Linked DNA regions of Homo sapiens: region 1 is linked to region 2. Evidence: fine-mapped expression QTL. A gene starts in region 2. The other region holds a variant in brackets. All regions are shown on one strand. Distances are from middle to middle.

Region 1 (8,374 bases), 41 kb before region 2:
AAAGTTATTCTAACTTGAGGTGGCAACATATTTGAATTCTTTTTATGACAACATATTCGAATTCCTAATATTTGGCTTAAGAAAATGATAAAATAAATACACATTTCTTGATCCTACACTGGGTAGGCTGAGGTATCATGGGAAAGAATAGTAGACCAGGATTTAAAAATCTGTCACAGAAAACTTAAAAAGCAGGCACTTAAAATGGAACATTAGCCTTATTATAATCAGGCAAAAAAGAATGGAGACAAGGTCAGACCCAGTACATAAAATAAGTTGTACAGATTGTAAATACACTCCCATTAGTCTTTTCTTGCCACTCTGGATACATGTTAACTCCATGGCAGACGTCCCAAGTTCATCCATTTACAAAACCCTGCCCAAGGACCCACTAGGCATCATGAGAAAGCAATTAGTTTCAACAGCGTATGCATTTCCATCTCTTTCCCAGCTGCACAGTGCCGCCCTGTGGTGGGGGGTGGTGTACACCCAAGGGACTGACTTGCAGTATGGTTCAGTCAGGCTGACGTCAACCGTTCCCCTGTGGGATTCCATAACAAAAGATTTTATATGTTGACAAGCTTCTGATTTTTCCTGTTAAGTTTCTCTCATACACTGAAGACGTTAGACTCCCTTGGGGATTTTATTTCTTTCACAGAAGGTAAGTTTTCCTTGTCTTTTTCCCTCACAGCTCATCCTGATCTCTCTGGAGACCTTCCTTTCCCAAACCATGACTGTGATCTATTATGTGGTTCACCTTTCAACATCCTTTCCATAAAGAAGGAATTCTAACGGCTAATGAACTTGAATAAACTGTTCTACCTCACTAGTTCTCAAAACAAAAACAACACTGAGTTCTACTTCTGCTTAGAATGTATAAAACTCGAGAATATTGCTCCTATACCAATAAGAAAAAGTCAGATAATCTATTATACAAAAATGTTCCTTTTCTTGAGCCCAAAGAGCTACCATCATGAAGCAATCAGGTAACCTGAATTAGGTGGTGAGCTGGTGTATGTTTAATAATTGGTCCTCAGTGGGAGAAAGGGAGGGTGCTAATTTGAAGGATTTGTCAGTTTCAAGCTACCAATGTCATGCTGCTGACCCAGAGATGTGCAGCCAGGTCTCATGAGCCAGTGTGAGCCAGCTTCAGCTCACCATGGACTGAGTTCCAAAGAGTAGCCCTTCTGAGGAAAAACGGGACACAGGAACTACTGCACCTTAGGCAGAGCACAGGAGAAAGATGGCCTCTGCCAAAAAAGTGGGTAGTAAGAAAATAGATACACTTCTAACACATTCTTAAAGGGCAAGAATAGGCTTGCCTGACTTCAGGACCCCAGGGATCCCTGGATGCTCCTTTAGTTCACATCCACTCATGAGCTTGTTCCAGAGGCCTGCACTGGGAGCCCTGGAGAAAGCAGAAGACCCGAGGGAGACCCCACTGGTGGTAGGGACATGAAAGCCCACCTACTTCCCAGGCCCATTATCGTGAAACCCATGGTAAAAACGTGAAGCACACGGGGGAGAAGAAAGGAGCCACCCTGTCCCCCACCCCTAATCGCAGGCAGGCAAAGGCAAACCACTTGAGGGGGAGGGTGAGTAGAAGCAAAAGTTGTCTGCCCTTAAGGGAAGGGCAGTAAACCCCCACCCTTCCATTTGTCCCCCACACAAGACTTGTACCCAGTAAAAAGCATTCTGCCCCAGAGGAAGGGGTAAGAAACCTGTTCAGCCCAAGTTCCTGCACTGATACAAGCAGAGTTCGATTAGGGAAGAAGCTGTATACACTTCACCACAAAGATCCCTCACAGATAAAAGGTGGAGTCTGGCTGCCACGGAGGTAGCGGGGCAGGAACCCTGAGAAAACCTCACCCCCAAAGCTTGGAATAAAAAGGGCCTGCCAAAAATTGAGCTGGACCAGGAGAACCCCCTCCCCCCGACTTCATGCCTTGCAAGGAGAAACAAGAGGCCTCCTGTGAGGAGGGGTCTGAGTGTGGAGTGAGACCCTCCTCTGGCACACGTGTCAAGGCCTCAGTGACAGCTGAGCAATCAGGACACTGAGAAAAACCCTCCAGCACCCGAGACCCTACACCAAGCCCACTGTCTGCTGGAGGAATTTGAGGTCTGTGGTGTTGGGAAGGTATCTACAGTAACAATCAAATCCTGACTAGATTGATAGCACCCACACCAGTGGCCTACGGAAGGGGTGCGGCCGGACATAAGTATTATTTACTTCAGCCTCTACATTCCATTGAAAGTTATAGAAGACACAAAAAAGCAAGAAAAGACATCCAAACAATGAGGTATCATTTTGACTATCACATCAGTAGCAATAATTCAGTCTATGGAGCTTTGGAGAAATAGGTGAATGGAGCATAAATTACTTTGTCTATGAATTCAGGAGAAGATATGGAAAAGATGCAAAGGAGCAAATAAGTGGCAACGCATGACACATTTTTAACTGTGTACAGCCTCTGTGCTAACGAGTTTTCCTTTCAAAATCTATCCCAAGAAAATAACTAGGTAAGTATTTCATCAAAACATATGCATATGGATGTTTTGCGTATTATTATATACAACAGCAGAAAACAGAAAAAAAACCCCTATATGCCCACTAAAAGGAAGCTAGCTTAATTAACCAATGTAATACTATGTAGCCATTAAAAACAATGTGATGTTTACCTCACACGTTACTTATTAATTACATACACACACTAAGTGATTTTAGTGATTTGGCATCACCAAGAATGAGACAAAGTGACATTACGTGCCTTCTGATGAGATGAGGTAGAAAGTACGTAATATTCCCTAAGTAGAATTCTTATCAAAAGATATTTATTCTAAATCAGTCATCCCCAAACTGCTGCACATTGAAATCACCTAGCTGGTTGTTTTTTTATTTTTTTTATTAATACTTAGGTTTGGTCCCCATCCCAGACACTGCGATTTAATTGGTACTGGGATGTGACCTGGGCATTTGGATTTTTAAAAGCTTCTATTCTAACGTACGGCAAAGTTTGAGAACCACTGATCTAAATAACAAGGGAACAATTAGATAAATCCAGACTGTGAGACATACTGCAGGAAACCAGATTGGACTCTTCAAAAAGATGTCGATGTCATGAAAAAGTAAAAAAGCAAGAGAGTTATTCTGGATGAGGGTTTCTCAGTGTTAACACTGCTGACATTTTGAGACAGATAATTCTTTGTGGTTGGGGGCTGTCCTGTGAACGAAGGTGTTTCACAGCATCACTGGTCTCAACCCACTGGAACCACCAGAATAATCCTCCAGTTGTGATAACCAAAAATGTCTCCAGATATTGCCAAATGTCCCTGAGGGAGCAAAATTGTTCCCCAATTGAGAACTAAACTAGATTAAAGAAACAAAAGCAGTAAGTTAACCAAATGCTATATATGATCCTTACTGAATCCTTTTTGGCCGGAGGGGAAAGAGCTATAATGGTCATTTTGGTGACAACTAGCAAAATCTGAATATAGACTAGATATCAGATGATATTACTGTAGTAACATCAGGTAGCATGATAATGGTGCTATGGTTAGATAAAAGAATGTTTTTGTTTTTAGGAGCTACATGCTAAAATATTTAGGGGTGAAGTGTCAATGAAGACTCACGCTACTTTACTTTCAAATGGTTCAGGAAGAAAAAATAAGAGATGTGAGTGGGGATAGAGAGAAGATGGGTATGTGCAAATGTGATAAAATGAGAACAGCTGGTGGAATTTGGGGTAAAAGCATTTATAAATAAACAGATGTTTATTGTTAGTCTCTTAACAATTTTCTTTCACAATGAAATCTTTTCAAATAAAAACCTGGGGGAAGAGAGGATGTCGTAGAGCTATATATAGTAACTTAAAAATATACACAAAAATCCACAATATACAAATATACAGGCCAAAATGTTAGTCTTTGAATTTTTTTAAATGAGCACATAAAACATCTAAGACAAAGGAAAAAAAAATCCTTAAAACAAAAAAAGATCCTAATTTTAGTATTGTTTTTTAAAAAAACACGTGTGTGTGTGCACGTGTGCATGTGCACACATTTTTCACATAAAAAAGATGGAAAAAAATTACCAAAAAGAGTATTTATATCAGGGCAGTGAGATTTTTAACCTAAAATTTCCAATATCTCTACAATAACTGTGAAATACCCTCACAATCAGGAAAAACAAAACAATAAAACTGTTAAGTGTTATATTAAACACACACACATGAAAATCTGTCTCAGTCCCAATGCAACCACAATAGAGACTGAGTATCTCCTGGCAACAGAGAACATGGCCAGGGCCTCTTCCAAGGGGCAGTTAGTGGCAAGTCTCCATAGCTTGAGCACCCCT[T/A]ACCCTGCCTTCCTCCTCCCTTATATATGCTTTGTTTTCAGTGACTCCTACAAACACAGCCTAATCACCCTTACAGTACCTTCCACATGTCTATTTCACGAGCCACTGTTAAAGACAAATGAGGCAACCACAATGAACTTGAAAGACTGGCTCCTTCCTACGGTCCATAAAGACCAAGTCTACTACTTCTAGAACTGGGATTCTCCTGTAGGGGAAGGGAGTAATCAGAAATTCCCAGCAGCCTTTCCAAACTCCACAAATCCCACCTCCAGTTTCTGACTTGCCTCCTGGTTGAGATCCTCCCTGCTGTGGAAACCCACTGATAACGCACTGGAAAAGAGCTGTGACCCATCACTGGGAGGGCAATCATGACCAAATGTTCATCCAATTCTAAGATTCTGCTAGTTTAATCTTCCCCACATAAAACAAATCTTCAGGTTAAAAAATTTTTGCTAACTCAAAAATGAATTCTAATCTTCCTAACATTGCCAGCTGTCATAGAGAATATAAAAACAGAGTCAGATACTACAATATAAAATACATGTACATTTTCTGGCCGGGCACGGTGGCTCATGCCTGTAACCCCAACACTTCTTGGGAGGCTGAAGTGCGCAGATCACATGAGGCCAGGAGTTCAAGACCAGCCTGGCCAACATGGCAAAACCTCGTCTACTAAAAATACAAAAATCAGCCAGGCGTGGTGATGCAATTCTGTAATCCCAGCTACTCAGGAGGCTGAGTCACGAGAATTGCTTGAACCCAAGAGGCAGACGCTGCAGCGGGCCGAGATCACACCACTGCACTCCAGCCTGAGCAACAAAGTGAGACTGTCTTAAAAAAAAAAAAAGAAAAAGAAAAAGAAAAAAAAAGTACTTATTCTAAGGTCAAATTAAAAAAAAAAAAATCACAAAGGCACTGCACACCAAAACATCCATCATCACCTTGGTGATCTCTCGAGCAAAAAATTCTATAGCTGGAAACCTTGAGATAATTAGCTGTTGCAGAACTCTAAAGCACATTATTTTCATTCATCTTCTACAAAAGAAACACCAATTAACCTGGCCCAGGGCATAAAGCAAATGGCATATGCTGAGATTTGTCCTTATCGTGACTTTGAGGGCAACATGGCTTGGTAAATAGACAGTGTAATACAGGAGACTGTCCTGCTTACAAAGGGCTCCATGCCCTGTCCTTGAAAAGCTGCTGAGATATTAAAGAGCTTAATTCCCATCCCAGCTTAATTCACAGTTGCCATAGACAATCACACTGGGAAGTTTTCCAATCCATCCACTTCACTTAAAGGGCTTGCTTTCATTTGTCAAGATGATAGAAAGCTAAGAGCTTTTAAGACCTGATGAGTGCAACTTCCCCAAATACTTTCCAACATGAATGGAAACGACAACTTACTGGAACAGAGCAAATAATGAGGGCAACAAGCAGGCATTCATTAACACTCTTTGGCCAAGCAGCCTTCTCTGGGTAGCCAAGAATGGAGCCTGGGAAACACAAATTTAATCAATCCTCAACTCTCTAAGAGGTCATGCCATGCCAGCTTTGCTATGCCTAGGCAAGCTGCTGGGACGCCTCCCTCCCCATCCTGGGAACAAGGACGTTATCTGGGGAGCACCATCCTAATCGTTTTAGCATAAACTAAAAGGTAATGCAATGCCAAAGTGCATCATCTAATGTGCTCCAAAGCTTGGGAGATTTCTGGCGTATCTGTTTAGGATTCTCTGAGAAAATGCACCCATTGTGAGTTAATAAAACAGTAAAGTCAGAACTTAAATCCACTGGACATTATTGTGAAATCAGGATGAGGTAACAGAATGTAATTTACATAACTCTACAGGCAAGGGTTAAAAAAAGCCTTTTACATATTATGCAACCATGAAAATTGAAAATAAAAATCTAAAAAATAAAAAAGCTTTTTCTATTTATCAACAGAGAGAGACTTAGCAAAACAATAAAATACATGAGCTCTAGGGCCAGAAGGGCCGCCACTATCCCAAACAGTAATAGAAGGCTCAGTATTACTAACCCTCTAATTAGAGTTGGTTTTTTTTTTTTTTTTTTTTTTTGAGATGGAGTTTCGCTCTTGTTGCCCAAGCTGGAGTGCAATGGCACGATCTCAGCTAACTGCAACCTCTGCCTCCCGGGTTCAAGCTATTCTCCTGCCTCAGCCTCCCGAGTAGCTGGGATTATAGGCACACACCACCACGCTCAACTAATTTTTTATATTTTTAGTAGAAACGGGGTTTCACCATGTTAGCCGGGATGGTCTTGAACTCCTGACCACAGGTGATTCGCCTGCCTTGGCCTCCCAAAGTGCTGGGATTACAGGTGTGAGCCACTGCACCTGGCCTGAGTTTTTAAAAAAATAACATGAAGACCAATCAACTTATTTTGTCAAAGTCACCTGGTAGGAAATCTAAGCAAACGCTGAAACCCTTCAACATTCAACTTGAAGCCCTTACCCTTTTACCTCCTGCAAATGTCAAGGAGCCCACGGTCCTAGTTCTCCTTGGTAGGGAGTATCTGTGCATACCTCAGGAACACCGCAACTGTCTGGAAACTGACACTGTACTCAGCCTCCATCTCCCCAGAAAACACAGTTCTCAATGCTTTTGTCTGTGCACTGAGGGCAAACAGAGGGAAAAAGTCTAGACAGGGACAACTCAAGTGAATACAGGGAAGGTCCCTCCCCTTCCTTGTATTCATTTGAGTTGTCCTGTAATGTCCTTCTTGCAGTGTATAACCACAGCTACATGCCAGGTCTATAGACAGGGTATGCTTTGGTTTCTACATCCTTCTTCAGCAATGCCCATTTTGGGAGAAAACCAACTAACCAACCAAGAAGAGTCTGTCCAAACCAAAAACTCTCTGGCTACTTTGTAAGAGTGCGAGAGTGAGGGATGATCTCAACACCACGAAGCCTGCCATGCATTCAGAGCAGGCCATGATTTGTCCTGCACCTCCCCTTCAGAGAGGAGGCTTGAAACCTGGCACCACTTTACCTTTTGTAGAAATGGAAGCGCTCTGTGAAAAGTAGAAACTGTTTCTCTCCTTGAAGGAAGAAGTGTCTGGCCCTGGAGACACCAGACTTCTGCGTGTACTCGCAGATGTGGGTAAAATTCAATTCCTCCTTCTTGAAGTAATTTCGAAGACGCACGAAGTCAAAGTAGGAGGGGATATAGATGAGCGTGTGAGACATGACTGCATCACGATACTGTGGCAAAATCTTGTTCACAAAAAAGTTAAACCTGATTTGGAATGGCAAAGGGCAAAATTAATGTCTAGAGCTAAGCTTATGGTGTCTCTTAACTGTGTGACCCTGAGCAAATTACAATCTCGTGTTAAAAGATTACCTCCCCAGAGGCCAATATGATTTACCTCCTCTCAAAGAGATTATGTAAGGATAAAACTTGATAAGCACACTAAAAAAATAAGTGTCAACACTATTCATTGTAAAAAACAGATGTAATACCATTATATCCCAGAGAATTACTCTAGGAAGTACACACCACACTATTCAGTCAGTCAGTCAGTCACTCAGTCACTCAGTCCAACAGTCAACAAATAATCACTGAACATCTACCATATACTAAGCCTCACTAAGCTTCTTTGGGGTCCCCTAACTAAACACAATGAAGAAAAAGGGGGAAATTATACAATTAGAAAAATAGTTCTTTCCCTGAGGGGCTTACAATTAACTTGCTGACATGAGACACTTTGTAGCATAAAGCTGTATAATTTTAAAATGCCACAGTCAAGAGTGAAAGAGTCCTGATTTATAGTAATAACCCTGCTACTAACTAGTTATGAGACCTAGGCCAAAGTCACTATTTCTCTCTGTGCTTCAGTTTCCTCCTCTGACAAATGACATAATTAAGTTCAATTATCTCAACTGATTTGGTAGTTATCAATAAAAGCAAAATGGAATCCAATTCTAGGTTTGTATGCCCAAGTCAAATCTCTCTATGTGGTCCCCAGGGGCCTGCTGGGAGGAGTGGGTTACCTGGC
Region 2 (8,309 bases):
GCCATCTTGGTGATTCTAGAATTTGGAGGCCATTATAGAGTGCAACAACCAGAGTGCATTCAGTTTAGGCTGTGGCTTAGGCAATGTGTTAGGATCACCTGTGGCCCTGATGCTTTAAGATACTTGGATGGAGACAGAGATAAGCCAGGGCCAAGAGAAAAGTGAGGGTAGACCTGATGGGCTCCAGAATGCCTTCCAGAAGGAAGGTTGGAGTCTGATTTCCTTTGAAAGCACAGAATTGGATTGTTTAGTGCAATGTCCCTACCTGACTCTTTAGCAACTCCACCAAAGGTGCACAGCTTCTTTGCTATCACCAACTCCAGTAACACTAAACTCTCCACTGTATGGAGCCTTTGGGAGGAGTCCCAGTTGCCACGCTTTCTGCTCTGCCAAGAAGAGAGTGGGATTTGGGTTCATGGTTTTATTGTCACATGTCTGATATTGTAGAGTTTAAAGTCTCTGGGTGGAAAAAGAAACTCTTTCCTACCAAATGAGAGCTGACTGGGAACAGGAGAGGGGAATTCCCTCATTCCCTGTGGCTGTGAATCAGGGCCCCCGTGCTGAAATGTACGTCCCACTACCTGAAACTCAGACTCACTAGTGAGTCAGCAATGCCGCACCTGATTATCAATGGAGGGCAAAATGATGGGAGCATTGCAGGCCCAGGGCATGTTGGGAATGACTGAATCCTGAAGAGGCTCTTTTGAGAATACAGAAGAACTGATTCCTCAAGAGCTTGTGGAAAGACTCACAAGATGTTCTTATTCCCCAGATCAAGCAGATGAGGCGTGTATCAGAATAGAAGACATCAGGGTGGCCTATTGTCAGGGCTTGTTGCCTGCAGAGCCGGGGAGTTCCTCCTGATCTCTACCTTAATTCCACCTGCTTTACCCCCTTTCATTAATTCTTCAGTTGAGTGACATGAGAGTAGGGACTTGGTTTTGTTTATGGCAATATCAACAATATCAACAGTACCTAGATCCATGGGTGATTTTTTTTTTTTTTTTTTTTGAGATGGAGTTTCCCTCTTGTTGCTCAGGCTGGAGTGCAATTGTGCAATCTCGGCTCACCGCAACCTCCACTTCCTGGGTTCAGGCAATTCTCCTGCCTCAGCCTCCCGAGTAGCTGGGATTACAGGCATGCGCCACCAAGCCTGGCTAATTTTGTATTTTTAGTAGAGTTGACCATATTGGTCGGTCCGGTCTCCAGCTCCTGACCTCAGGTGATCTGCCCGCCTCAGCCTCTCAAAGTGCTGGGATTACAGGTGTGAGCGATTGCACCTGGCGATTTTTTTTTTTAAATCGTTAACAGCCAGTGCAGAACAGGTCAGAATAGACTTTGGCTGCGGAGCTGAGCAGGGGTCCAAGTGGATAGAGCCCCGGGTTTGTGTTCTAGTCTTGGTTTGTGGCTAATATGCCATGTGACCTTGAGTAAATCACTTGACCTCGCTGGGCCGCAGTTTTCTCATCTATGAAAAGGGAGAATTTAGACTAGAAGTTGCAATCAGATGCCTACAGGGTCAGGCAATTAAAGTAAATTAGTGAGCTCAATAGAGTGAGTTTGTATTGGCTGTAACGTGTAGACTCCCTCTAAATGGGCAACTGTTGCCAGGTAGAACTGCTGGTAGAGCATCCAGGGCACTTGACTCTTTAAGAGATGCTGAGAATTTTGATGTTTATGTGATACCTCCTGATATTTAAAATACTGTGTGGGTAAAAACTGGCTAAGTCAGTTTTAGTCTTGATCTAGATAGTCCAGAAGAACCCTCCCAGCTTGAGTTTTCTGATTCCAAAATATATGTCTTCTAAAGAAGGTCCTTAAGACATCCCCTTAGTCATGGGAATTTCAGCTGGTGCAAAAGTGAGTGCCTGTGTGTGGGCTCATACTTGTATGCCACTGGGGTTTTGACTCCCCTCAAATGACACTCTCCCAATGGCCTTACCCCTCATCCCTCTCATACACCTGCAGTGGAGCTTGTTTGGTCCCCAGAGCCCAGCCCTGGGCCAGATGGAAGATGCTGTTTGTCTAGTGAGCTCATCAGCAGTAAACAGCTAGCTGTGCTGATGAGCTTGCCCTTCCCCCAGTGAAGGGAAGAGTGGCCACAGGGCAGTGGTTGAGACAGAGGCTGGCTGAGTCAGGCCTTGGGGCCTTGCTGCCTTCCCAGGCCTTTGCTGGCTACATTCCAAAGCTAAATTGGGACTTGGAATCATGCCTACATTATTATCAATCTGGGGCTCTTCAACACACTTGTATGAGTATGCTAGGGCTACCATAACAATGTACCTCAGAGTGGGTGGCTTGAACAACAGAAATTTTTTGTTTCATAGTTCTGGAGTTTAAAAGTCTAAAATCAAGGGTCTGAGGGATGTGAAAAAAAAAAAAAAAAAAAGAGCTCTATTCCAGGTATCTCTCCTTGGGTTGCAGCTAGCTGTCTTCTCTTTATGTCTCTTCATATCACCTTCCCTCTGTGGGTATCTGCCTCTGTGTCCAAATCTCCTCCTTTTATAAGGACACCATTCATATTGGATTCAGGCTCACCCTAATAACCACGTTTTAACTTGATTACCTCCATAAGGATCCTGTCTCCCAATAAGGTCATATTCTGACATCTGGCTGTGGTTGCAGTGGGGGTGGTCAGGACTTCAAAATACAAATACAAATTTTTTTGTATGTGGGTGACAGTTCAACTCATTGTACCACTCCTCCACAGTTTCTCACTCATTACTTTAAACACCAAAACCTAAGTGACCTGCGCATGCCCCATTTCACCTACGACAGCTCAGTGGTTGAGGGTGGGGGATTTTTAAAAGTCTCATTTACTGTTGCACAGCCTCCTGCAAACCGGTCCTCTAGATAGATGAGGAAGGTGAGGGCAATCTCATCAAGCACCTGTTAGGGTACATGCAGGACTTGAATTTCAGGTAATAACAAGGAATGCCTTCTTGTTCTCTGACGCACTGTCTATATGGTATTTTTAATCTTTATGCCAATAATAATTGCAAGTACATATAAAGCACTTGATAAGTGCTAAATATTGTTGCAAGCAGTTTACATGTAGTTATTGAATTCCCACAATACCCCTGAGGTAGGTACTATTACTAACCTCTTTCTACAGATAAGACACCAGGGCCTAAAAAGCTTAAGAAACTTTCCCAAGTCTGTAGTAACTGATGGAGTTGGGGTCTAAACCCCAATAGTTGGCTCCAGAGGCTATGCTTTTACTCATTACACGATAGTGATCAGAGGAAGCAGGAACTCCAGTCTGGGCAACATAGTCAGACCCTGTCTCTAAAAAAAAAAAAAAAAAATTAGCCGGGCATGGTGACCCATGCCTATATTTCCAGTTACTTGGGAGGGTGAGGTGGGATAATTGCTTGAGCCCAGGAGGTTGAGCTATGATTGTGCCACTGCATTCTAGCCTGGATGACAGAGCCAGACCCTGCCTAAAAAAAAAAAAAAAAAAAAAAAAAGGAATTGAACTGGGTGCCAGTGCCTGTAATCCCAGCACTTTGCGAGGCTGAGGCGGATCCCTTGAGCCCAGGTGTTGCAGACCAGACTGTGTAACTTAATAGCAAGACCCCATCTCCAAAAAAAAAAAAAAAAAAAAAGGAAGAAAAAAGAAAGAGAAAAAAGCAAACAACAACAAAAAAGAAGGAAGGAATTATTATTCTCATTGAAGAGATGAGGAAACTGAAACCAAGAAGCCAAGAAGCTAAGTAACTTACCCAGGGTCACACGGGTAAGAGGCAGAGTAAAGGTAGAATTCTAGTCCTGAAAGCCTATGGCTTCTCCCAGACAGGACCAAGTGTCCTGGTTCTCTTCTTCATGTGCAACTCCACTTACACAGGCCCACGAGTAGTAGGGCCAACCCAGAATCTCAAAACCCTTATTTGTGCTTAACTGTCTGCATACTGCAGGGTAATTATGGGCCGTGAAGGAGGGAGGCACCCTCTCGACTTAGATCTGAACTCCCAGTCGCTTCCAGTTCCCAGGACCACCAGCCCTGAGCCGTAAGGCTAGGCCTGAATCTGGGACTTTCTTAGCCGGAGTTAGAAGCGGAGGAGTAGGGTGGGACGCTGGACGGACGCCGCTGGGCCGGGCAGCCCAGAAACGCGGAGTGTCATATTTCTTGCAACTCGCCAATCCCGAACGCCGGGGGGCGTGGCCACACCTGGGAGGCGTGGCCGGGCGGATGCGAAGGCTGCGGCGTCCTGGGGCGAGGCGCTGACGTGAGCTCGGCGCACCTGGGCTGGGCAGGTAAGGGCTGGTGCGGGACGGGGAGAGGAACCTGCAGTCCCTACTTGGGTAGAGCCAGGCGCCCCTTGGCTAAGACGTCGAGGAGCGTGGTAGCGACGGGTGATCTTCGCTGCGGACTTGGTTCGGAGGGACGTCCGCTTCTGGTGGACAGATTGAGCAAAGGTGGGTACGCCAACTTCTGGGGACCAGCTTGAGGGAGGAGAGGCTCCCCCGTGGGTGGGGTAGGACCCATCCCCGGAGTTTGTAGGGGGTGAGAGAACTTGCTTGGGGGCATCTGTGTGTTTGGGGTGGGTACCCACTGGGGCTGGGTGCCTGTCGCCCTTTTCCAGATAGCTTTGGGGCGGCCTCAGTTCTGTAGCGCTAGGCCCCTCTCGAATCTACACTTGTGTCTACTCTCCCTACCCCCACCGCCGAAGCGGAGGGCACTGCTCTCGGCCGTCAACAACCCCACTATCCGGTAGAGCTAAAGCACCGCGCCCCCTTCAGTCTTACCAACTTGCGGCTGGCCCCTGTGTCCCAGAGAGGGGACTTCCCAGGTCCGCAGGTCCTTGATCCTAGTGGGCGTTTTGGGAAACTGGAGTGAGGGTGGCCAGGAGCTTTGGAGCATTGGCGGTTTGTCTTCCCTCCCTGAGTCTGTTTGGCACAGTTAGGCCCTTCGCCCTGGGCCTGGGAGACAACCTTGGATTTCCAAGGAGCGGAGCTAGGTGCTGGGGAGGGTGGCGCTGGGGTGTGGTTGCTCTGGGGGTGGGCCCTCTTTGCCCGAAGGGGCTGGAGGGTGGTGTGGAGAATGGGGAAAGTCTCCCAGGCCTGACTTGGAAAGGAGGCCTGAGGTGTCACTCTTTACAGGGAGCCTGCTTTGTGGTAAAGGGGTCATCCTGTTCCAACCTGTTCTCTTGGTGGATGTCAAGAGTGGAAGTCAGGGAAAAGAGATGGATAGAGAGAGGAAGGCGCTTGGGTGGGATTGGTGAAAGCTGGTGTTGACCCAGGAGTGTGGTTTAGGATGAGACGTGTGTATGATGTATGACAGTGGCACTCAATACCTTGTAACTCCCATTCGCCATCCCCCAGCTTCCATCCAGCAGAAGGGAAGGGTGTGGGCATTTTGACTAGAGGCCTGCAGTTTACCCCTAAGCAGGGCTAAACAGGGAAGCCTGAGGAACGGAACTTAGACGATGGCATTTCATTTCTTTCAGGAGAAAGGGAAGAGCTGGGACTGCTAAGAATTGTCTGCGAGAAATGGCGTGTGTTTTAACCTGAGCAAAACCACTGACGGCCAAATCTCGGCTTTTGTGTGGCAGTGCCCCTGGAAACTAGTCTGGGGAGGAGCTATGGAGGTGGCAATGAGGGTGTTTATGGAGGACCTGCTCCCTAGAATAGGGGTATGGGAGAGGACAGTTATGCTCGGAGGAGGCTGAAAGTGTCCCTCCTCTATGCTCACTGTGAGGGGAATAGATAGGTTAGCATCATTGTCCTTTGGCTGTTTAAGTACCTGTTAGAGACACAGGCCTTACATTTTGCTGTGATGGCAGCTAGAGATACCAAGATGAGTTCAACTAGGCTAAGGTGGTTCTTCAGGCGTTGGGATTTGGGTGGCAAGAGTGTTTAGAAAGAGAACTCTGATTTAGGTGTGTTTGAGAGTGGATGTTATGCAGTCTCCACCTCAATCACTTTATTGGCCCTCTATGCTGCTGGGATCTTTGTTGATGTTTTTAGTTTACTTTCTTGGTGCGCAGAAGATGAGAGGGACATGGAAGACAAGGTGCAGTGGCAGGGTTTGGTACAGAACACTGTGACTTAGGAAATAAAGCACCTCAGCCCAGATGTAAAATGGGGATAGTAATATCACATTCAGGTTTATGAGGATGAAATCAGACATGTTAGGTAAAGGTTCATGTAAAAATTGTAAAGCCTACACAGATACAAAGGATTGTTGTTACCATCCTTCATAAGAAATGTCTTATTGTCCTGAGGTTAAGAAAAAATTACTTGTAGTTTTTTAAATTATAAATTGAAACATATCATTGTAGGAAAATATGAATCATATATAATGTATATGGGAGAATGTAAAAAGCACCCATAGTTGCATCACTAGATAACCATTACAAATATTTTGTTGCATTGTTGTATTTATTTCCTTTTTTCAGTTCTGTGTGTATGTGCACATGTATGCAAGTATATGCTGTGTTACAAGATGGAGATAGTGCTACACAGTCAAGTTGTATGCTGTTTCCCCCTGCCCCCACAACTTCATATTGTAAACATTTCCTTGAGTATAATACAAATTCTGACACCTGTTGTTAATGGCTACTTAATATTGCAGCCTGTGGTTGTGACGTAATGAATGTTTCTGTCTTGGCCATTTGGGTTTTCAATTGTTCCATCTCTGCCTGTTTTTAGACTTGTAGTTACTGGGTGGTGAGTGGGGGAGATCTTGGCTGACTTTCAGAAGGTGGAGAGGGTTTACAGTGAGAGAGGCAGGGCATGGGCTTGGAGGAGGGCAGGCTGGGGCTCCTTCCATGGGGCTGAGGCAAGGCTGCTCTTGTGTAGTCCCATCTTAGGAGAACACTGAGAACCCAGGGCTCTAGATCTTAATCACTGATTTCTGTGGGTGGCTGCTTCTCCTTTCCCATCATCAGGTGCAGCTCCTGGTCTTGGCCTGATTGCCTTAATTTTTGCATGGTGGGATTTGGATCAACTACAATAAGTCCTTTTGGACTTTTCTTCCAGTCCACTATCAGTCAAGAGTTGGATTTTAATGTCTGACAGGCCCAAACACAGCACTTACCAGTATTGCAATGGAAATTCTCAAAAGCTCTTTACTAGATTGACTGGTTTGGTGCCTATTTCCCTATCCTCTTTTTCCTTCTCTTGCTCCATCCCCCTTTCAGTAGTGATAGGACTGGGGAGCAGAAGGTAGAACTAGCCGTTGAGAGAATATGCATCCCCTCCTCCTTATAAGGCTTATAATGCACTCCATGGTTTGATGGTTTCACATGCTGCCCTACAAAACACCGTAATTCAAGGCCAACTACATGGGGGTACTTGAACACTGCGTGCCAACCTGACCTACCCACTATGCTCCCAGGGGGAAGGTTTCAGTTGCAGGACTTGGTAATTGGGTCAGAAAGCTCAGGTGAGAGCAGGTCTTGCCTTGCTCTTAAAGTGCCAGACGCTGAGTTGGGTTTGGGTTTTTCACATTTGTTGGGAGTCTGGCTGGGGAGAGAAGTGGTGTTATGGGCCACCCCGTCAGCTAAGCTCTTCTGAGTAGGAGCCTTCAGCTGACCCTTTTAACCTCTTTTCTTTCCCACCTGGCACAGTTTATTCCCATATTTAGCTGCTTTGCTGTAAGGTTGTTTGGTTTCAGAACTGTGGTCCAGGTAGGGATCTTTCTGGGTATGAAGGTGACCTATTTATCTTCCCCTCCTTCTCAGGCCATTGTGGGGCTTGAGAAGTTCCAGTGTGGAGTTTCTCAAGAAGGAACATGGAGCGTCAGTGTTTAGTAACTAACACCGTGCTTGGCACACAGTAGCTGATGAACAAATATTTGTTGAATGAGTGTTCTTTTTCCAGGCATCTCATTCTCATCTTAAGTAAAAACAAAATAAGAACACCAAAAAATCCAAACACAACATCTCAGACAAACAATTCTCCAGTGACTGTTTTTTTATCAGTCACCCAATCTGGGAAGGCTTTTGTTTTCTGCTGTGAGTGCCAGCTGCTCTTGAATGTTATCTGCTATGCCCATGTATTTTTACAAGAATCAATTGCAGACTTTACCCATGCTGGCTCCTGCAACCAATTGGTTCACTCCAGCCTTCACTGGGAGATAAACAGACCCAAGGGAGGAGGCTGTCCTAGCCATGCAAAGCTTGTCTCATGACTGCTTTTAGTACTCTAAGTACTCTTAGTACTTTAGTATTTGGTTATTCTAGGGCTTCTGAGCTTTACCAGACTCAGTAGTGGAGACGTGTTCTCAGCCTTTGTCGCCAGTGTTCCCAAGCCTTCTCCCAGACACTGGATTGTTGTATGGATAGCCAGCTGAGACCCCTCCT

The links. PIP is the estimated chance that this variant, and not a neighbour inherited with it, causes the effect.
Region 1: its variant is fine-mapped to the expression of IRF6 in whole blood (INTERVAL, PIP above 0.99).

Annotation. Positions count from the first base shown.
Region 1 is chr1:209,842,691-209,851,064 of GRCh38, reverse strand. It overlaps UTP25 (UTP25 small subunit processome component), which reads right to left. Exons shown (of 12, transcript NM_014388.7): 10 at 8,370-8,374; 11 at 7,369-7,614. Among named protein-coding and RNA genes, the nearest start is that of UTP25, 19 kb to the right of the region's middle. The variant T/A (reference allele first, on the strand shown) is at 4,355.
Region 2 is chr1:209,802,057-209,810,365 of GRCh38, reverse strand. IRF6 (interferon regulatory factor 6) reads left to right here and starts at 4,224. Exons shown (of 9, transcript NM_006147.4): 1 at 4,224-4,419. RefSeq lists a silencer at 3,959-4,302.